Linked DNA regions of Homo sapiens. The protein of the gene in region 1 purifies or fractionates together with the protein of each later gene. This does not show direct contact. Each region holds a gene or a part of one and is shown on either strand. Other genes may lie near its edges.

The links. The genes of interacting proteins can lie anywhere in the genome.
Region 2: the proteins of CTSE (region 1) and CCNT1 purify together in Homo sapiens (affinity purification with mass spectrometry; 2 studies listed by BioGRID and IntAct, with this or other methods). This does not show direct contact.
Region 3: the proteins of CTSE (region 1) and MTMR6 purify together in Homo sapiens (affinity purification with mass spectrometry; 2 studies listed by BioGRID and IntAct, with this or other methods). This does not show direct contact.

What each region holds. Positions count from the first base shown.
Region 1 is NC_000001.11:206,013,892-206,020,914, reverse strand, and holds part of CTSE (cathepsin E isoform a preproprotein), read left to right. Parts: intron 1-4,769; coding exon of another isoform or gene 4,770-4,784; coding exon 4,785-4,984; intron 4,985-7,020; coding exon 7,021-7,023. UniProt on the Homo sapiens protein: May have a role in immune function. Probably involved in the processing of antigenic peptides during MHC class II-mediated antigen presentation.
Region 2 is NC_000012.12:48,699,695-48,706,717, reverse strand, and holds part of CCNT1 (cyclin-T1), read left to right. Parts: intron 1-821; coding exon 822-950; intron 951-5,644; coding exon 5,645-5,705; intron 5,706-6,877; coding exon 6,878-6,940; intron 6,941-7,023. UniProt on the Homo sapiens protein: Regulatory subunit of the cyclin-dependent kinase pair (CDK9/cyclin-T1) complex, also called positive transcription elongation factor B (P-TEFb), which facilitates the transition from abortive to productive elongation by phosphorylating the CTD (C-terminal domain) of the large subunit of RNA polymerase II (RNA Pol II).
Region 3 is NC_000013.11:25,284,476-25,292,401, reverse strand, and holds the start of MTMR6 (phosphatidylinositol-3,5-bisphosphate 3-phosphatase MTMR6), read left to right. Parts: upstream 1-4,913; 5' UTR 4,914-5,154; coding exon 5,155-5,178; intron 5,179-7,926. UniProt on the Homo sapiens protein: Lipid phosphatase that specifically dephosphorylates the D-3 position of phosphatidylinositol 3-phosphate and phosphatidylinositol 3,5-bisphosphate, generating phosphatidylinositol and phosphatidylinositol 5-phosphate.

The DNA.
Region 1 (7,023 bases):
CAACACTCCCCACCTGAGATGGTGGCAGTGGGTCAGTCTCCACAGCACGCTGGGCCCTGGGGGAGAGCAGCACAGGGGGACTCTGGCAGGAAGCAGTGCCCAGTGCACAAAGCCTGGTGGCAGGGTGCACAGCTGGATCTCCAGTCTCTAGGGCATTGAGGAGATAAAACCACGTCTCCGTCTTGAAGGATAAAGAAGTCCACACCAGGGGGAGAGATTTGGACTCAGTAACATAAGGGGGCAAGGTCTGAAATGGGAGTCCAATCACAGAGGCAAGGCAGAAGCCCAGTTGTCCAAAGGCCAAGGTCCAAACTGAACTCAGTGCTGAGCTCATGAGCTGTTCCTCAAACTCCCTCTGACCTCTGACCCTCTGACTCCCTCTGAAGTCCTATGGGTCCTAGAACTATGGGAATCAGACAAATGTGGGGACAGAGAGCCAGGTACTTTTTCAGGCTTATAGACAGCAATATATGCCTGGGCCTTGGGAGAAAGAGAGGTTGACCTACTCCTGGTGAACGTTGGTCCCTGGGGTATTCCCGAGGCCAGCAGGGCACAGCCTTCATCAACATCCCTTAGAGTGGGTGGAGTAGGACATATTATCAACTGAAAGAATGCCAGAAGCAGAAAAACACCATCTATGTAAAAATATCATACAGATAAAACAATGTACTGTATTTTCTATTGGAACTATGTATGCGTGTGTATACACACATTACATATATAATATATAATATATAATATCCATATATGAATATATGTAATATACAGTATATTTGTATATATAATATATATCCATCTGTATATATTATATAGATACAATATGTAACATATTAAAGTATATAATAATTGCATAATTATATCATATAATACATGTTATATATTATATAATTAATATAATATGTAATACATTACATTAATATATGTTATATAATATATAATATATTATAGAATATAATTGATATAATGTATTATATTAATAATATAGTATGTGTTATATAATATATTAATATGTTGTATGTAATAATATATTACATAATATATTATGTTAATCTATTATATAATAGATTAACCTATTATATAATAGATTAACATAATATATTACATAATATGTTAATCTATTATATAATAGATTAACACAATATATATGTAATGTGTATATATTATGTTATATATAAGATTCTATATATATTATGACATATACATATATATTATATATCTAATTACATATAATATATATATAAAAGTTAAAATGACTATTTTGAAGGCTACATCCCTAACTGATCATCACAGTAACCTCTGAGATGCAGGGAAGGGACTGAAATTAGCATAGAAAGGGGAATTCAAGCCTATAGCTTGTCACGTATCTGTTGGCTCACCTGGCTGGTGTAGGGCAGCAGCCAAGCCCACAGCAATGTCAGCTGCATTGCTCCTTCCCTCAGTTTTTCTGGCTCCAGGACCAGGTGTGCACTTACCTCTAACAAATCATCAGCTTTTGCTGCATAACATCCCCATCATTGAGGCTGGAGACTTGGGGACAGTGAGAGAACAATGTGGGTTCCAGTCCACCCTCACCCTCATGGGTTCCAACTGGCCCTTTTTCTCCCACTTGACATCTATCTTCCCTTTCTGCTGTGCAAACTGTAGACTGCTGCTGCAGCATCAGGACAGAAACAGTATCCTAAAGTACACTGTTTAACTAGCACCCACAGTTGCATATAATCAATATCTATATCCACATCATTATAGCTATATCTATAATCTATAGTACCTCCTAATGGTTCTGCTTCTCTTATCAAACCCTGACTGACATAATAAAGATATGACATGTGAAAATTTGTAGATGAAGCTGATGCAGCCCTTAAAGGGACCATTTAGCCTAAAATGCATGCGTTGTTAATAGAAATGCTAATGATCAATTATCTAAGCTCCTATTTCAAGAAATGAATAACAAGAAAATGAGCAAACCGTAAACAAACAATAGCAAATCAAACCCAAAGAAATCAAAAGGAAGGAAATAATAAAGAGTAGAATGGGACACAAATGAAATAGAGAAATCACACAGTACAGAAAATTAACAAAGCCAAGAATGAACTCTTTGCAAAGAGTAATAAAATTGGTTAGCCTCTCACATGACTAAATAAGAAAAAAGAAAGAAAATACAACTTAACAATGTTAGAAATGAGAAAGAGAACATTAGTAAAGTTATCAAGAATAATTTTATATTGATAAATTTTACAATTTTCAGAAAATCAACAAATGCCTTGAGAAATACAGCATACCAAAACTGATGCAAAAACAAAAAATAGAAAATGTGAATCTTTTAAAGATATACTCTGTTATTAAAAAATCTTTCCACAAAGAAAACTCCACGAAGAAAAGCCTCACTGATAAATTCTCTCAACACTAAAAAAAATCAGTCTTTCACAAACTCTTCCAGATATTTGACAAAGTAAAAACACTTTATAACTCATTTTATGAAACCAGCATAACTTTAATAATGAAACTTGAAAAGGACATTATAACAAAAGAAAATATAAAATTACAGACCAATCTCTTCTCTCATGAATATAGATGCAAAAGTTCTAAATGAAATACTAGCAAATAAAATCTTTTGGTATATAAAAAGATCATACCAAGGGTCATCTTTCCAGGAATTTATCATTTAACAGAATAAAAGGAGAAAAATCATATGACCAATATGATTATATTAGTAGGTTAATAACATTCAATATCTATTCATGACTTCAAGAAAAACTCTTAGCAAACTAGGAGTAGAAAGTAACTCCCTTAATCTGATAAAAATGAAGGACTTCATCTAAAAGAAGCCCACAGCAAACTTTATACTTAATGGTGAATTGTCGAGAGACTTCTCCATAAGATCAAGAATGAGACAAGGACACTCAATCTCACCACTTCTATTCAACATTGTACTGAAAATCCTAGCCAGTGCAACAAGGCAAGAAAAAAGAAATAAAGAACATTAAGATGGAAAAGGAAGAAATAACTCTGTCAATATTAATGTATGACAAGATTCCATAAGTAGAAAATCCAAAAATATCTACAGAAAGGATATTGGGATTAATATGTGAACTTAGCGAAGTTGCTGGATATGAGGTCAACATAAAAAAAATCATCTGGGGCCAGGCACAGTGGCTCACGCCTGTAATCCCAGCACTTTGGGAGGCCGAGGCAGGTGGATCATGAGGTCAGGAGTTTGAGACCAGCCTGACCAACATTTCTCTACTAAAAATACAAAAATTAGCCAGGCGTGGTGGCACACGCCTGTAGTCCCAGCTACTCAGGAGGCTGAGGCAGAAGAACTGCTTGAACCCAGGAGGTGGAGGTTGCAGTGAGCCAAGATCATGCCATGGCACTCCAGCCTGAGTGACAGAGTGAGACTCTGTCTCAAAAAAAATCATTTGGATTTATATATACAGGTTATGGATCCTTATCCCAAATGCTTGGGACCGGAAGCCTTTTAGATTTCAAATTTTTTCAGATTTTGAAATATTTGCATTATACTTACCAGTTTAGTATCCCAAATCTGAAAATCCATAATCTGTAATGCTCCAATGAGCATTTTCTTTGAGCCTCATGTTGGCACTCAAAAAGTTTTGGATTTTGAAGCACTTCAGTTTCAGATTTTCAGATTTGTGATGCTCAACCTGTAGCAAGTAAAACAAATGGCAAATAGATTTTTAATGACACTATTTATAATACTATCAAAACCATCAGCTACTTTGATGTAAATTTAACAAAAAATGTGCGAGAACTCTACTCTGATAATAGCAAACATTACTAAATAAAAGTAAAAGACTTGCATAAAAATCACAAACATTAATGAATAAAATTAAAAGAAGACCTGTATTGAAAACTAAACCATGCTCATAGATTGAATGACTCTGTTTCATTAAAAAGTCAAATTTTTTCAAATTGGTCTATACAACCAATTTTATTCCAATCAAAACAACAGCATTTTTTCTTAGACATTAGCAAACTGATTCTAACATTTATATGGATATGTAATACACCAATACAATCTTGCTGAAGAAAAACACTGGTAAATATTAAGATTTATTATAAAGTTACAGTAATGTAGACGTGTGGTGTTGGCACAGAATTTAAAAAATAAACAAATGTAACAGAACAGAAAATACAAAACTATCAACACAGTCATCTGACTTGCGTTGAACAAGATACTGCAGTATGTGGAGGAAATGATGGTATATTTATTAAATAGTGCCAGGTCATATGAATATCCAGATAGAAAAAAATAAATCTTAATTCCTACCTTACACATTATCACATTTCATATAGGTTCCAGATCGCAATGTGAAAAGTAAACAATAAAGCTTTTAGAAGAAAACATGAGAAAATGTTTTCATGACCTTAAGGTAGGCAAAATTTTCTGAAACAAGTTACAAAAAAACAGTGTACAATAAGCACATGATGAGTGACAGAAGCCAGATACCAAAGAGTTCATATGGGATGATTCCATTTATATAAAATCCAAAAAATAGGCAAAACCAATATATGTTATTAGAAGTCAGGAGACTGGCTCTTCTTGAGGAGGGGCGCAATGATTGGCAGGTGCATGAGGGCTTCTGAGGTTTGGAATGTCCTGTTTTTTGGGAATATAGCAAGCATCTTTGTGCTCATTTAGTCAAGGAAAGTTGGGAAGGAGAGGCATTAGCTTCAAGACAGAGGAAAATCCAGGAGTCAAACCCTTTGCCAGCAATCCCCTGTGCCATTCTCCTGTTCTCCTGTGGGCTTTCTCCTACCAGGTGGAAGGACTAACCGTGGTTGGCCAGCAGTTTGGAGAAAGTGTCACAGAGCCAGGCCAGACCTTTGTGGATGCAGAGTTTGATGGAATTCTGGGCCTGGGATACCCCTCCTTGGCTGTGGGAGGAGTGACTCCAGTATTTGACAACATGATGGCTCAGAACCTGGTGGACTTGCCGATGTTTTCTGTCTACATGAGCAGGTAAGGCCCATCAAGTCTGTGAGGTTAAAGTCAGTTATAACTACAGGGAGACAACACATACACTTGACTTAGCAGTCAAAAGACCTGGTTTAGGTAGCTTGGTCCATTACCAGCTGTGTGATCTTAGTCAAAACATTTAACCTCTCTGAATATTGAGGAAATGGGATTTGCTTCATCAAGTAGCTGTAAAAACACTTTGTAAACTCTACCACACTGGCTTAAATTTAAGGAATCTCTGGGATTGGTTCTTCATTGATGCTGTCACTAAATATCAAGCTCCTATTATATGCTGATTATGATGCTCACACTGGGGACCCAGTGAAACAAGAAAGACAGTACCTGCAGGAGGAGGAGGCAGAAAAAAATGAAAAGCTGACAATAAAATAATTGCATGCTGATGGATGAATAAACAAAATGTGGCATATCCAAATAATCAAATATTATTCAGCCTTAAAAAGGAAGAAAATTCTGAGACATGCTACAACATAGAAGAAACTTGAGGACATAATGCTAAGTGAAATAAGCTAGTCACAAAAAGACAAATACTGTATGATTCCACTTAGGTGAGGTACCTAGACTAGTCAAATTCATAGGCAGAAAGTAGACTGCCAGTTGCCAGAGCCTGGGGAGGGGAAGTGAGGAATTCTTAAACCGTTGTTGATGGCCTAATGGGTATAAAGTTCCAGTTCTGTAAAATGAAAGGTCTGGATTTTACAACAGTGTGAACATACTTAACACTACTGAATTGTAGACTCAAAAATGGGTAAGATAGTACATTTTATGTGACATATTTTTACAACAATTTTTAAAATTGCACATTGTTTTTGGAAAAGGTCATGAGGCTCACCTGTTTCTAGGCACTCTTGCCCGGCATCCTTGGAGGGTCATCTCCTCTTCCTCCTTACACAGGAAGGTGATTTCTGACCTTGCTGACTTTTTCCAGCTCAGACCTGGCCTGCGTTCACACTGTTTCAGCATAAGCCCATTCCTCTCATTCCCCTCTCCCACATGGAGGGTCCTGGATTTTCCCTATCAAGCTATGTTTCCTCTCCAGCATGACAGCACTCAGGACCAGGCCTAGGAAGAGCTGTGAGTAAGAGAGGCAAGTTGTCTAGACACCTCTGCTTCCCCTTGCAGAACTTCCTTCTCCCGTCGCCTGGGAAAAGTGGGCTGTAATGGAGAATATCAAGGCTTGGCAGTCAGACTGGCCTGGATTTGAATCCTGCCACTTACATTGCTTCATCTCACTGAGGCTCAGTTTCTTCCACGGACCACTAGGTTGATGTGAGTTAAATAAGTTTAGACAGATAAAATCCCCACTACACGGCCTTGCACCAAGGTAATCAACAAATGTGAGTTCCTTTCCCCACTCCCTCTGTAAAACCACTGTCCTAAAATTCCTACAGGTATTCACTCCTCTCCCTCTTTACCACCCTGATTTCAGTTTTGTATCTTTCTGATCCTTTTCCTCCTCAAAATGAATCTGTCTTAGGTCCTATTTCTCCAGAGTCCTGCTAGGTTCCAGAACATAATCTGAGAAATCAATACCAATGAAAATAAGTTTTCAGGCTCTAGTAAGTCATGATACATTCATATTAGCCTCTTTGCCTTAACATAAGGAGTGAATAACACAAAAACGCCAGGCACTGTCACAACCATAGTGGGGAAGATACTTTGGGAAAAGGTGTCTTTGGGGGTTGCTTCAAGCCACACAGTGTATACCCACCCAGGATGGTCCTGGCCTTGGTTCTGAATGACAGACCTGCTGGCCCCATTTCCCACCTCCTTAACCTTTTTATCCAAGAAGCAGAAACACATTCACAAATGGTCAAGGGGAGTTGTTTCTAACCTTGTGTCAAAAAGGCCCAGACCAATTCACTTGCAGTAGTCAGAGTCCCGGTCTCAAAGCCCAGACTGATGTTTCTGCCTACCTGTGTGCTTGGCATGAGACCAAGAAGCAAAGGGTCCTAGCTGAGGCTCACCCCTAGAGTTTTGCAGTGGCCCTTCCTGGACAGTTTGTCTTTCTCTCCATGTAGTAA
Region 2 (7,023 bases), on another chromosome or scaffold:
GACTCCTGGTGAAATACAGCTCTTAGCATTACTATCTTTGAGTCACTGAAATGTTCTTAATATTCAAGAAAAGTTCTATTTCCTGAAGTTTCCAAGATCACCAGGCTACATTTATGTCATATTGCTTTAATCTTTTATAAAGTTTGTTATCTACTTTTATATTGACTTCAATTTTTCCCTCTTAATGCTTTCTATAAATAATGTCTTGCATATAATGCCATGCTTTGTATTTTTGAAAGGTTCGATATGTATAAGTAATTGAGATATAATTCACGTACAATGAAATTCGTTTGTTTAAATTATATAGTTCACTGGTTTTTAGTATATGCGCAAAATTGTGCAACCATCAGCACAGTCTAATTGCAGAACATTTACATCACCCCAGAAAACTCCTCACCTATTAGCAGTTATTCCTATACTCCTCTCCCCGCAGCTCCTGGCAACCACTAAACTTTTTCTCTATATGGATTTGCGTATTCTGGACATTTCAGTTTACTCCTTAAAAAATGTATTGAGTGATTTGATACAAACTTAATAAAGAATCTCACTTTAAATAGAAAACTGTCTGCTTACATCTAGTAGCTTCTCCCATAGACAGCTTTTAATGACAGTTTGTCAAAGAATTGGTATTTGGAAGTGGAGATGGATTAATGGGTAGGAGAGGGGAAGATGGTAGAAGCGGGGGGGCGGGAAAGGGTAAAGAGGTGACAAAGTTGAGGCAAGCAAATAACTTGATTTGAGACTTAGCTCCTCTTTAGATCTACCTTACTCTATGAATGAATAAATTGATAATAAATATGATTTATTTTCTCTCCATTCAGTCTGTGGCTCCAGCAGCCTTGTTTCTAGCAGCTAAAGTGGAGGAGCAGCCCAAAAAATTGGAACATGTCATCAAGGTAGCACATACTTGTCTCCATCCTCAGGAATCCCTTCCTGATACTAGAAGTGAGGTAGGAGATTAATTACACATCTGTTTTTCTTAATTTTTTTCCTTTCTTTTTTTTTCCCTACTCCCAAGCATGCCTGGATCTTTATGTATTTCAATGCAACTTAATTTTATAACTTCGATTTATTGAAGTTTAGATTGGTGTTGTTAAAAGAATATTTTAGTGTTTGTGTTTTTCTTAACAGTAAGAAAATCAGGCCAGGTATGGTGGCTCACCATACCTGTAATCCTAGCACTTTGGGAGGGTAAGGTGGGAGAATCACTTTAGGCCAGAAGTTTAAGACCAACCTGGACAACATAGCAAGACCCTGTCTCTATATTTAAAAAAAAGAAAAAAAAAAGCCAGATGTGGTGGCTCATGCCTGTAATCCCAGCACTTTGGGAGGCTGAGGCAGGAGAATTGCTTGAGTCCAGTTCGAGACAAGCTCTGGCAACAAAGTGAGACCCCATTTCTACAAAAAAAGAAAAACAACAACAACAACAACAACAAAAAACAACTGGGCATGCTGGCTCACATCTTTAGTCCCAGCTACTTGGGAGACTGAGGTGGGAGGGTTGCTTGAGCATGGGATGTTGAGGCTGCAGTGAGCCATGATCACACCACTGCAGGCAACAGTGCCAGGACTCTGTCTGAAAAACAAAACACATAAATTTTATGGCGAAAGTTTTGTATTTGTTGCAGTAAAATTTGAAAATACAGAAAAATTCAAGAATAAAATATCTCTCAGATATATTCTAGACCAATGGTCCCAGACCTTTTTTGGCACCTGGGACTGGTTTCATGGGAGACAGTTTTTACATGGACAGGGGGTGGGGTTGGAGATGGTTTTGGGATGATTCAAGCACATTACATTTATTGTTCACTTTATTTCTATTATTGTTACATTGTTATACATAATGAAATAATTACGTAACTCACCATAACGTAGAATCAGTGGGAGCCCTGAGCATCTCTTTTTTTTTGAGACGGAATCTTGCTCTTGTCGCCAGGCTGGAGTGCAGTGGCGCAATCTCGGCTCACTGCAACCTCCACCTGCCGGTTTCAAGCGATTCTCCTGCCTCAGCCTCCTAAGTAGCTGGGACTACAGGTGTGCACCACCACACACAGCTAATTTTTGTATTTTTAGCAGAGACAGGGTTTCACCATGTTAGCCAGAATGGTCTCGATCTCTTGACCTTGTGATCTGCCCGCCTTGGCCTCCCACAGTGGTGGGATTACAGGCATGAGCCACTGTGCCCGGCCACCTTGAGGTGCTTTTCCTGCAACTAGATGGTCCCATCTGGGGGTGATGGGAGACAGTGACAGATCATCAGGCATTAGATTCTCATAAAGAGCAGCAAATTAGATCCCTTGCATGGGCAGTTCACCACAGGGTTCAAGTGCTCCTATAAGAATCTAATGCCACTGCTGATCAGACAAGAGGCAGTGCTCAGGTGGCAATATGTATGGTGGGGAGAGGCTATAAATACAGATGAAGCTTCACTCACTCGTACCTGCTGCTCAACTCCTGCTGTGTGGCCTAGTTCATAACAGGCCATGGACCCCCTGTTATATAGACAACTGAAGCACAGGTATACTAATGAACCACTGTTATTTGTGGCTTCTTTTCTATAGATAGCTATGTGTGCATGTATTTTGTCTCTGGTTTGTTTTCATTTGCTTACTATATCCCAAATATTTTCCCATCTGATGGATTCTCTACTTTTTAAAAATGTCTGGCTAGTATTTAATGATATATATGTGAATGTATGTATTTTTAACAATTCTCCATGAAGAAGTCTAGATAATTTCTAGCTTTTAAAATCACTATAAATGTTATGAAAAATATTCTTTTTTTTTTTTTTGGAGACAGGGTCTCATTCTGTTGCCCTGGCTGGAGTCCAGTAGTGTGATCATGGCTCACCGCGGCCTTGACCTTCCGGGCTCAGTGATCCCCCTGACCTCAGCATCCCGAGTAGCTGGGACTATAGGTGTGCGCCACCATGCCCAGCTAGTTTTTGTAGAGATGGGGTTTCACCATGTTGCCCAGGCTGCTCTCGACCTCCTGAGCTCAAGTAATTCGCCCACCTTGGCCTCCCAAGTGCTGGGATTACAGGCGTGAGCCACTGCACCTGGCTGAAAAATATTATTATACATTTTTATTATGGATCCTTAAATGAGTAGTTTCACTATTTTTTTTTTTTTTAACTTTTTTTTCGAGTTGGAGTTTTGCTCTTGTTGCCCAGGATTGAGTGCAATGGTGCAATCTCAGCCAACCGCAACCTCCCCCTCCTGGGTTCAAGCGATTTGCCTGCCTCAGCCTCCCGAGTAGCTGGGATTACAGGCATGTGCCACTACACCCGGCTAATTTTGTATTTTTAGTTGAAACGGGGTTTCTCCATGTTGGTCAGGCTGGTCTCGAACTCCTGACCTGAGGTTATCCACCTGCCTCAGCCTCCCAAAGTGCTGGGATTATAGGCGTGAGCCACCATGTCCAGCCAGCTTTGTTTTTTTTGAGACAGAATCTCGTTTTGTTGCCCAGGATAGAGTGCAGTGGCAAGATTGTAGCCAGGATGGTCTCGATCTCTTGACCTTGTGATCCGCCCGCCTTGGCCTCCCAAAGTGCTGGGATTACAGGTGTGAGCCACTGCACCCGGCCACCCTGAGCTTCTTTTCCTGCAACTAGATGGTCCCATCTACGGGTGATGGGAGACAGTGACAGATCATCAGGCATTAGATTCTCATAAAGAGCAGGTGATCATTTCACCTCAGCCTCCCAAGTTGCTAGGACTATAGCTGCGTGCCACCACTCCCAGTTAATTTTTATTTTTTTGTAGAGATAGGGGTCTTACCATGTTACCCAGGCTGGTCTTGAACTCTTGGCCTTCAAAGAATCCTCCCATACTGGCCTCCCAAAGTGTTAGAATTCCAGGTGTGAGCAACCATGCCTAGCTACATTTTTTTTTTCTTTTTTTGAGATGGAGTCTCGCTCTGTCACCCAGGCCGGAGTGCCGTGGTGCGATCTCAGCTCACTGCAACCTCCACCTCCCAGGTTCAAGAAATTCTCTGCCTCAGCCTCCTGAATAGCTGGGATTACTACCTGCATTCACTCTATGGAACAAGCCAAGGTTCACGCCCACCATCACACCCAGCTAATTTTTTAGTATTTTTAATAGAGACAGGGTTTCACCATATTGGCCAGGCTGATCTTGAACTCCTGACCTCGTGATACACCTGCTTTGGCCTCCCTAAGTGCTGGGATTACTGGCGTGAGCCACCGCACCCGGCCCATTCTTTATTTTTTAACTGTCTAAAAAATCCAGTGTATTTTATGGTTATAGCACGTTTCAATTTAGCTACATTTCAAGTGATGAATGGCTACATGTGGCTAGTGGCTATAGCTTTGGCTGGCACAAATCTGAGTGAATTTTCTTATTACCTTTTCCTTTGAACTCTTCTGTTACTTTTTAGAAACCTAACATGGCCCCAAAGGGGAAGTTCTAATAGGAGCCAAATGTTTGGTATTAAATGCTTACAGTACTGTAGGAAGGTTCTGCAAATGTATTTTGGTGATGTTGAAAAATATATACTTTATGGCCAGGCGCGGTGGCTCATGCCTGTAATCCTAGCAATTTGGGAGGCTGAGGCGGGTGGATCACCTGAGGTCAGGGGTTCAAGACCAGCTTTGCCAATATGGTGAAACCCCGTCTCTACTAAATATACAAAAACTAGCCGGGCGTGGTGGTGGGCTCCTGTAATCCCACCTACTCGGGAGGCTGAGGCAGGAGAATCGCTTGAACCTGGGAGGCAGAGGTTGCAGTGAGGCGAGGTCGCGCCACTGCACTCCAGCCTGAGCAGCAGAGCGAGACTCCCTCTCAAAAAAAAAGGCCGGGTGCGGTGGCTCACGCCTGTAATCCCAGCACTTTGGGAGGCCGAGGTGGGCGGATCATCTGAGGTTGGGGGTTTGAGACCAGCCTGACCAACATGGAGAAACCTCGTCTCTACTAAAAATACAAAATTAGCTGGGTGTGGTGGTGCATGCCTGTAATCCCAGCTACTCGGGAGGCTGAGGCAGGAGAATTGTTTGAACCGGGAGGCAGAGGTTGTGGTGAGCCGAGATTGTGCCATTGCACTCCAGCCTGGGCAACAAGAGCGAAACTCCAACTCAAAAAAAAAAGAAAAAAGAAAAGCAAAAAATACATACTTTTAATTTTCTTTTCTCTAAATCACATGAACCATAAAACTTAAATATTAACCTGAAAATGAACCAAATATATGGTGCTTTTTCTGTAGCCATATATAAACTGTTACCTCTCAGCATACTACTTATTTATTTATTTTTTAAAGAAAATGTGTACTGAATGGGCATAAGGGATAAAGATTGTATTTCACAAAAAAATTAGCCGGGCGTGGTGTTGCGCGCCTGGAATCTTAGCTACTTGGGAGGCTGAGGCAGGGGAATTGCTTGAACCAGGGAGGTGGAGGTTGCAGTGAGTCGAGATCACACCACTGCACTCCAGCCTGGGTGACAGAGGGAGACTCTGTCTAAAAAAAAAAAAAAAAAAAAAAAAAAAGATTGTATTTCAGTTCTTAACTCTACCTCCTAACTCCACTCATGCCTTTTATTGTTTTGGTTTCCCTGGAAGGGATTGTTAGAATTGTTTATACTTTATATATTGTGCCTTTGTAGGGAATAATTTCTGTCTTCTCACTTTTAGGCTTATTTGCAACAAGTTCAAGATCTGGTCATTTTAGAAAGCATAATTTTGCAGACTTTAGGTAAGTTTATTTTCCTTTGAAACATTTTTTTAAATTATGCAATAAAATGATTTGATTCTAAAAATTTGCTATATAGGAAGAATATTTCTTGGGAAAGTTTTTGTAGTGTCCCTCTGTTTCCAGATGATAGAGGTTGTAGACCTGAGTTTAGCTTTGACCTGTTCCATAGAGTGAATGCAGGTAGTACAGCTGACCTTTGAAACAGCAGCCAGTGGGTTATTATTTTTTTCATTCTAGGGTTATTTGCTTTTTAAGTTTTGGTGATTTTTACCCCCAAAAATTATAAAAACTATCTAAAGAATGTTTTTCCTTCCGTGGATTGTTATGGCCTGTAACAGCATTTGTTTTTAAAATTGGTAACTAGTGTTTAGAACAGCAGAGTGAAAGTGGGGGAACTTAAGCTTTAGTGGTTGCATGGGCAACTCTGATGATATTGTGTTATTATCTGTTATTTTCATCACACAGGCTGCCTTTAGAAGTTTAGAAAATATGAAAATACAGATTTTTTTTTTCCTGGTTCTTTTGGGCTATCATTTTTCTCTTCTAGGTAGGGTAAGATTTCATGAGTTGTACGTCAAAGTTATTGGCGTAGACACAATTTTTTTTGTACATATATATATATGATGAGTTCTTCAAAGTTTATCTCTCAATTTATTCTAGTTAACTTTTTTCTTTTTCTTTTTTTTTTTTTTTTGAGACGGAGTCTTGCTTTGTCGCCCAGGCTGGAGTGCAGTGGCACAATCTTGGCTCATTGCAACCTCCGCCTCCTGGGTGCACGCCATTCTCCTGCCTCAGCCTCCAGAGTAGCTGGGACTACAGGCGCCCGCCACCACGCCCAGCTAAATTTTTGTATTTTTAGTAGAGATAGGGTTTCACCGTGTTAGCCAGGATGGTCTTGATCTCCTGACCTTGTGATCCGCTCGCCTCGGCCTCCCAAAGTGCTGGGATTACAGGCTTGATCCACCGCGCCCAGCCTCTAGTTAACTTTTTTCTTAAAATATCTTCAAATTATATTTCATGGGACAATGATGTTTTTCTGGTGGAATAAATTTCTATTAATATTTTAGTGTGGAAACCAGTAAGGTGTAATTTACAATCAGTTATCCTTTTACAATAATTTGTAAAATGTAAACTTCTTAATAGTTTTTTAATCCATTACTTTTTCTTTTAAGGCTTTGAACTAACAATTGATCACCCACATACTCATGTAGTAAAGTGCACTCAACTTGTTCGAGGTAAGGAATCCCAGCTTATGAAGACTATCTCAAGCTGTTTTCCCATTTAGAGGTTGTGGTTTGTGGTGGACAATACATAATAG
Region 3 (7,926 bases), on another chromosome or scaffold:
CCCACGCTTTATAGGAAGAGAACATGCTGACTTTCATTCCCATCTGCTTTCTTGTGGTCAATGATTACACTGGTATTTTGATATTCACCAGTCTAACTAACCCTAAAAACAAGTCTCTTCCTGATTATCTTCCTTCAGATTAGTTTGTAAGTTGCAGTGGACTACTCAATTGAATTGTAACAGTATTAAGTGTGCTCTTGGCATAATTGATGAGATCAGGCAGCAGAAAATGCTTAATCTGATGAATTTTATTGTATGTCAACATTTTTAAAGGGAAGGATAGGAATGTAGGAACACAGGTGCATATTGAATCCTCTGAAACTGGATCGTGTGCTTTATAAATATTACTAACAATAAAACAAATATTAGTGAATGAACCTCTTCTCTTTCCAATGTCTCTTCATTTCCCACCCCTTGTATTGAGGGGAAATGGGTCTCTTTGTTCCTTGCAGTAATCACCAAGGGGAGAGCTGGCAACAGAGAGGCAGATGGCCTGGATCATCTGGATCCTATATATGGTACCTGACTGGGGCTTCTACTCAGCTACTGCTGCTAACAGGACATCTGTTCCCAGAGCTCCCTGTGCCTTTCACATGCACAGGGTCTTCAAATAATGATGTAGGGACCCCCAACAAAAGTACCAAGCCCCTACCCCATCATTCAATAATGAAGCTTAACAATAGGCAAATTCTCCTATAAAGAGTAAGTTTCCAATCAGCATTTTATTGCTGGAAAGGACCATTAAAGATGATTAGATATTGGAGGATCGCTTCTGACATCAAAGTCAGAGACCAAAACAGCAAACGTAGAGAGAACCTAAAAGGAATAGGGTTCAGGAAGCAAAAATTACAAGAAATACATAAATAAATGAAAACTATTATTCACCTAGGAGAGATGAGCTCTTACATGTATCAGAGCAGGAGGCTAGAAAACAAATAAATGAACAAACTGAAAAACAAAGAAAAATAGGAAAATGTATGTAACCAAAAAGATCTCTTCACTTAGAAACAATAACATTCTAGTAGACAAACCTTGTGCTCAGATTTTGGATTCTTTTTTTTTCCAGTTAGGTCATCTTGGGTTCAGAACAGATCTTGGATTCTAATAACATTTTCCAATAAAAGGAACCAGGGCTCCTTGGGGAAATGGATGATTCTAGGGCTGGGGTGGGAAAGATGCAAGATGAGCCTGGAGCATCTTGTGGTATAGCATACCTGTATTCCCAGCTACTCAGAAGGCTGAGACAGGAAGGTTGCTTGAGCCCAGGAGTTTGAGGCTGTAGTGCACTATGATCACACCTATGAACAGCCACTGCACTCCAGCCTGGGCAATATAGCGAGACCTCATCTCTAAAAAATAAATAAATAAATAAAAATAAAGTCTATTTAAAGTGAAAACACTTAGAAATTAAAAATATAAGCCAGGCACAGTGGCTCATGCCTGTAATCCCAGCACTTTGGGAGGCAAACCTTGTGCTCAGTAGACAAAAAAGGAAGAAAAAGAAGAATCCAAGATCTGAGCACAAGGTTTGTCTACAATTATATATGTATGTGCATGTATATGTGTGTATATATATATACATACACATACATACACACATGTACATATATATAATTGCAGCAATTAAAAATATTAGAAATAATGGAGTATTCTAAAAATATTAGAAACAATGAAGTATTAAGAATTTCCTAGAGAGTAGATTAGAAAGGTAAATTCTTAAAAAATAGGAGTGAAAGAATAGTAAAATTAGGAAGTCAGACCAGGAATTTCTACTGAAAAAAGAAAGGGGCTGGGCACAGTGGCTCACATCTGTAATTCCAGCACTTTGGGAGGCTGAGGCAGGCAGATCACTTGAGCCCGAGAGTTTGAGACCAGCATGGGCAACATGGAAAAAACCCGTCTCTACAAAAAATACAAAAATTAGTCAGGCTTGGTGGTGCACGCCTGTAGTCCCAGTTACTCAGGAGGTTGAGGTGGGAAGATTGCTTGAACCTGAGGGGTTGAGGCTGTAGTGAGCTGAGATTGTGCCACTGCACTCCAACCTCAGTGACACAGTGAGACCCTGTCTCAAAAATAAATAAATAAAAATAAAACAAAATAAAAAGAAAGGAGAAAGGACAGGAGGGAAATAGGAAAGAAGAAAGATGAGGGAGAGAAGAGAGGTGAGAAGAATAAAAAAAATTTTTAAAGGGAAAAAAGAAAAAGGAAGAAGGAAAAAGAACGAAACAGTAATTATTACAGAAATAATACAAGAAAATGTCCCAGAATTGAAGGACTTATGTTTTCAGATTACAGAGCTCAAAACACTGGGCAGAAAAATAAACAAGAAAGCTAAGTTTTATTATGTTGAAATTTTAGACCATTGGAGATAAAGAGATCCAAAAAGCATCCTGAGAAAGTAGAAGCGACACCTAAAGGGAAATCGGAATGCCAGCGGATTTCTGAACAACTGCATTGAAAGTCAGGATATGTCTCTGGGAGCTTTCAAAATCCTAATTAAAATTACAGAATTCTAGACCTAGCCAAACTTCCCGTCAAGGATTTATGCTCCATTCACCCTTTCTCAGGAAGTTAATACAGAATATACTACATCAGAATAAAACAATGCAAGTAAGTAAATCAAGAAAGATAAACCACAGGATCTAAAAATTCAGCACAAGTAACCAACACATTTCTCAGGCCCATGGTGAGGAGAGTCCCAGGATAATATCCATTCAGTAGGCTCAGAGAACACAAGTGCAAACTGGAGCAAAAGGAGAAAAGGCTCCTAGAAGCATCTGGAGACCTCTAAAGAGATGTCTCGAGGAAAGATAATGGAACTGAGTGATTGCCAGATTTAACCATAAGGAATATTCTATCTAGTGCAAGAGTATTCAACTCAAGAGTCAAAGAAACGTCATTTAATATTTTATCTGTTATTTTACTTTCTTTCTGTAAAGCTAGGTAATTTTCTAGCCTATCATATTAACATAAATAGAACTTTAATATGGATTTTGAGAAGCAAATCAATGTAAAACAGTTGTTAAGAATACAGACTCTGAAGTCAGCCTGTCTGGCTTTATAACATGGATCTTGGCTTTATCTGCTATGTGATATTGGGCAAGTTACTTCACTTCATTGTGTCTCGCTTGTCTCATCTCTAAAATAAAGAAAGCAATAGCATTTTCCTCAGAATACCCGTAAAGCACTCAGTACATTTGGTCACCTGACATCATTATGATTGCCTCTCTGTGAGAATTGGTAAAGAGAGGACACAGGAAGTGAGGAGATGAGAAGAGGGAGGATAATCTGTAGGGGAATGGGGAAGGAGGAAGTTGTAAATTGGGAGGAAAATGATATAAAAAGTTTTGTTAAGAAAGTCTTGCTGTATGCTATACAATTCACCTCTTTCTGTTTTCTCAAAAAGCAATCCTCAGTAAAGACCTACATTACTTTTCTCTCTCTCTATATATATATATATGTGTATATATATATATATGTATATATATATATATATATATGTGTATATATATATATATATATATTTTTTTTTTTTTCTGAGCAGGATTTGTGGGGTTTTTTTTCGGGGGGAGGGGGTGGATGTGATACTGTACTAAGGTTGGTTTCTAGGTGGTTTAATGTAACTCTTATTACATATTTAGCTTAGAGGAGTCAGCAACTCCACCGCAAAGGCTGTTGTGTTTAATAACCATCTCCATTGCTTTGGCAATCTGTCTGAAACATCGTAGGCACTCAAAACAAAACAAACCAAGACAACTTGAACAAAATGAAACAAATAAGTGAAACAAAATTTTTAATTATAAAAGAAAATTTAGATGTTAGGCTTTTCTAACACCAATCACAGTATGAAAGATGAAGATTACAAACCTTAACCGGCTTAGTACAGAATACTTACAAAACGTAGAGCAGAGTTTCTCGGACTCTAACTCCTGACCTCAAGTGATCCGCCCGCCTCAGCCTCCCAAAGTTCTGGGATTACAGGCGTGAACCACCGCGCCTGGCATAGAGCAGGGTTTCTCAACCTCTGCACTGTTGTCATCTGCCGGATAATTCCCTGTAGTTGGGGGGTTGGTCTGGTGCCTAGTAGGGTGTTCAGCAGCCGACTTGTGACTTGGCCTCCACCCACCAGTTGCCCCCCGCCGCCACCCCCCCACCACCACCATTTGAGACAACCAAAAATATCTCCAGATGTTACCAAATGTCCCCCGGGGAGAAAACTCACTCCAGGCTGAGAAGTACCACATTAGACGTGTTCTAACAAAAATTACCTGTAACCCTCACCTAGAAATGTAAACTTTTTGTTTACATAAATAAAAATTACAGAGCACGGCTACATTGAACTTATTGTTCCATAGTCAGTTTTTTCTTCACTCAGTAATGCAGCATTAACATTTTCGTTATGTGATATCCCTCTACAGGATGAGTTTTAATGGATGCTGGTGCTAACATCGTATGAAATTGAGGTAGGAGGCGGGACTCTGACACCAGACCAGATTGAGGACTAGCTAATCATCATACTTTACATAAGGAATCCGTAGGATTGGAGAGTTGATTGTTTCAAATAAGGCTGGTTTCCTTATTTGGTTATTTCCTTAGAATAATAACTCCAAATCTGATTATTTCCTTAGAATACATTCTTATGAGTAGAACTGCAGCTCAAACTAAATTTGGTGCTGTCCAGTGGTATGGCGATGGACTTCAGAACATCCTCCACTCTTGCCCTCACCCCACAAGAACCCTTTACTCGGGATCCATTCTCACGCAGTCTTCCTCCCCGACCGCCCCGCGCGTCCGCTCGGCGGGATGACAAAGACCGCCTCGGGTGGGGTGGTGAGCAGTACCGGCCTCCTCCAGCAGGGGGCGCTGTGGGATCCGCCGCTGTCCGGGACGAACCAGCAAGCCGCTCTCGGTCCACACACGCTCTGTCTGCCTGCCCCGAGTCCCCCGGGAGGCCGCGGGGTTTGGGGAAGTGTTTCTAGGAGACGGCGCTCACCGGCTGCACCTGCGCCGTTGACGCCACCGGGGCCGGCAGACAGACCCGCGGCGCTGGCTGGTGGAGGGAGTTCCCGCTTGCTCTCTGTCGCTGTCACCGCCCTGTTTCTGTAGCCGTATGGTACGCCTGTGAGACCGGCTGCCGGCTGACGTCTCCTTGCGATGGAGCATATCCGGACGACCAAGGTAGTCGGGCGCGGGATCGCCAGTCTTCAGGGGCCCTGCTCTGACCCGGCTGAGGCAGGAGGAGACGAAGGCTCTGCTGGCCTGACTGGGGCTGGGAGCCGGCCCGGCGGAGACCCGGCCCGGGGCGGGAGGGTCTGGCCAGGCCTGGTCTGGGAGGGCAGGGTTAGCTTGGGCCAAGCGGGGTGCAGAGGCCTCCTGTACCTACAGGAGCAGGGGTCCCACTTTCAGCATCTTGGAGTGCGTAGAGATAAGTCTGGGAAAACTGGTCACCGCCCTCCTAGCTCTACGTTTTCTCGGGCAAAATTGGGGCTCCTTTAACTTTGGAGTCTTTCAGCCTTTCGTTGCCTCATCAACCGGAAAACCGTCTTCAAATTAACATTATGATGCTGTGTAAGCTTGTCCTTGCTCACATTTCATTGTCCCGTGTCACAGATTCACAGTACGAGTTTTGGAGGAACCGAGATCAGCACTCCGCTCCACCTCCCTTTGCTGTCTCGGTCTCCAGTCTTTCGCATCCGGTGTTTCCGTGTCTGTGCTTCATACTTCAGGCATTGTCCTGTGTCAGTAGTCAAGAGTTCTGGAGAAGGGAAAAATGTTATTCCATATTTTAAAAGGTCGGATGCAGCTTTATTCGATTGACCTTATTGCACTCCATGCTTAATTTTTGTGTGTGGAAGACCTTCATTTTGAGAACGAACAAATATTTTTATTTCGTTACAAATTTAAAAACGGAAGGAAATGACATCAGAATGTTACCAAATTACGTTTCCAACGACATTTAAGTTTAACTTTGAGAGGGAGAAAAACATAAATCGAGACGAGAAGAATAACATTTTAAAATCACTGCGAGCCCACTGCAAGGCAGCCTCTTGACGTTTTGGCAAAGCTGAAGCCCTTTAGTTGCTGCCCATCTTAAAATTACGGCTCATTTAGGGAACCACAGATGTTCGTTATCTTCATTGTTCCAAGAAGAATTTGTGTTTTTAAAAATTTTTTAAATGTTTCACAAACCTTTTAAAGGTATACATAAATTTTTATTGGAGCTTGTCTTTAACATTGTGCATACCGTATCTAGTAAAATTGAAGATTCTGAAAACTAACCCCTTAACATTTTTTTTTAAGAGAAGAAAGATAAAATAACTTGAGAATTCAAGTTGTGGGTACTTAAATTTTGAAAATGGAAGGGTGCTTAAGTCTATAACCAAACTCGTAGAAGGTGCACAGAGGAAAAGAGGACTAGAGTGGACATTGGATCAGGTTCTTGTATTGGTTCCAGATATGTATTATGTAGTAGCTAAGTGCACGTGACTTCCTTCTGCATCAGTTCGAAGCTCCTCTATTTTTCATATGCTTTCTACGGTGCATAGCACACAATCGAAAACCGGTAAAAGGCTGGGCACGGTGGCTCACGCCTGTAATCCCAGCACTGTGGGAGGCCGAGGTGGGCGGATCACTTGAGGTAAGGAGTTCGAGACCAGCCTGGACAACCTGGCAAAACCCCATATCTACTAAAAATACAAAAATTAGCCGGGCATGGTGGCAGGCGCCTGTAATCCCAGCTACTCAGAGGCTGAGGCAGGAGAATTGCTTCAACCGGGGAAGTGGAGATTGCAGTGAGCCAAGATGGCACCAGTGCACTCCAGCCTGGGCAATAGAGCGGGACTCAGTCTCAAAAAAAAAAAAGAAAGCCGGGTGGGGTGGTATGTACCTGTAGTCCCAGCTACTCGGGAGGCTGAGATGGGAGGATGGCTTGAGCCCACGAAGTGGAGGTTGCAGTGAGCCAAGATTGCGCCATTGCCCTCCAGCCTGGGTGACATAATTGGGGGGGGGGGGGCGGAAAAGAATAAAAAATCAGTAAAAGTAAACTGAATCTGATCAACTAGAGCAAATCCTATTCTTAGGTGGATGATAAGAGTGAACAGACTTGGAAAATATTTAGGATCCCTTGGTTATTTTAAATCTTTCCTCATTCAATTTATTATGAATATATATCTTTGTTTTTATTTGTAGAGTTGTAGCCCCTCTTATTAGCTCTTTGAAAGTTGTCACTGGTGACTTTCATTTTGTCTGATATTCCTCCTTATCTACCAACTGATGAACTTTTCTTCAAGTAATGCTCTGATTTTGACTTATCTTTACACAGTGGTCTCATGCTAGTGGTTTAATAAGGCCTTTTTAGAGACTAAGAAATTTCTGATGAATTGTCTATTAAAACTACTTTTCAAATATGCTCCTTTATTACTTTGGGTTGTTTTTCTAGTATTGGATCACTACTCTGGAGTAATATTAAGTGAGTGTATGTAGACCGCAAATAAATATTTTCTAGGTACCTAGTATGTGCCAGACACTGTATTGACACTGGGTATATAACAGCAAGATAGAGGTGGACCTCAGGGTACATTCTGTTAATTGTTGTGGGGACTGTAACATGTTCTTAAATTATTAATGTATTGGGAAATAACTTACTTTTAAAAGATTGGTTTGAACATAGCCAAACTTTTGTTTCCATTATGCATAGCCTTCACCTGGATTTAGTTAGTTTGCTGCAAAAATAAGTGTAAGTATTTAAAAAGCAAAAGTGGATTGTTTTAGATTTATTAGCTGTTTTGACCTCTATGTAGTTTAGTCATTAGGATCAAAATTGACCGTAGAGTGTCCTTTATGACTATTTAGTGATTTTTGTTGTTCAGTCAGCTCTATTTGAAAAGTAATAATTACCATTTATTGAGCAACTATATGTCAATATAG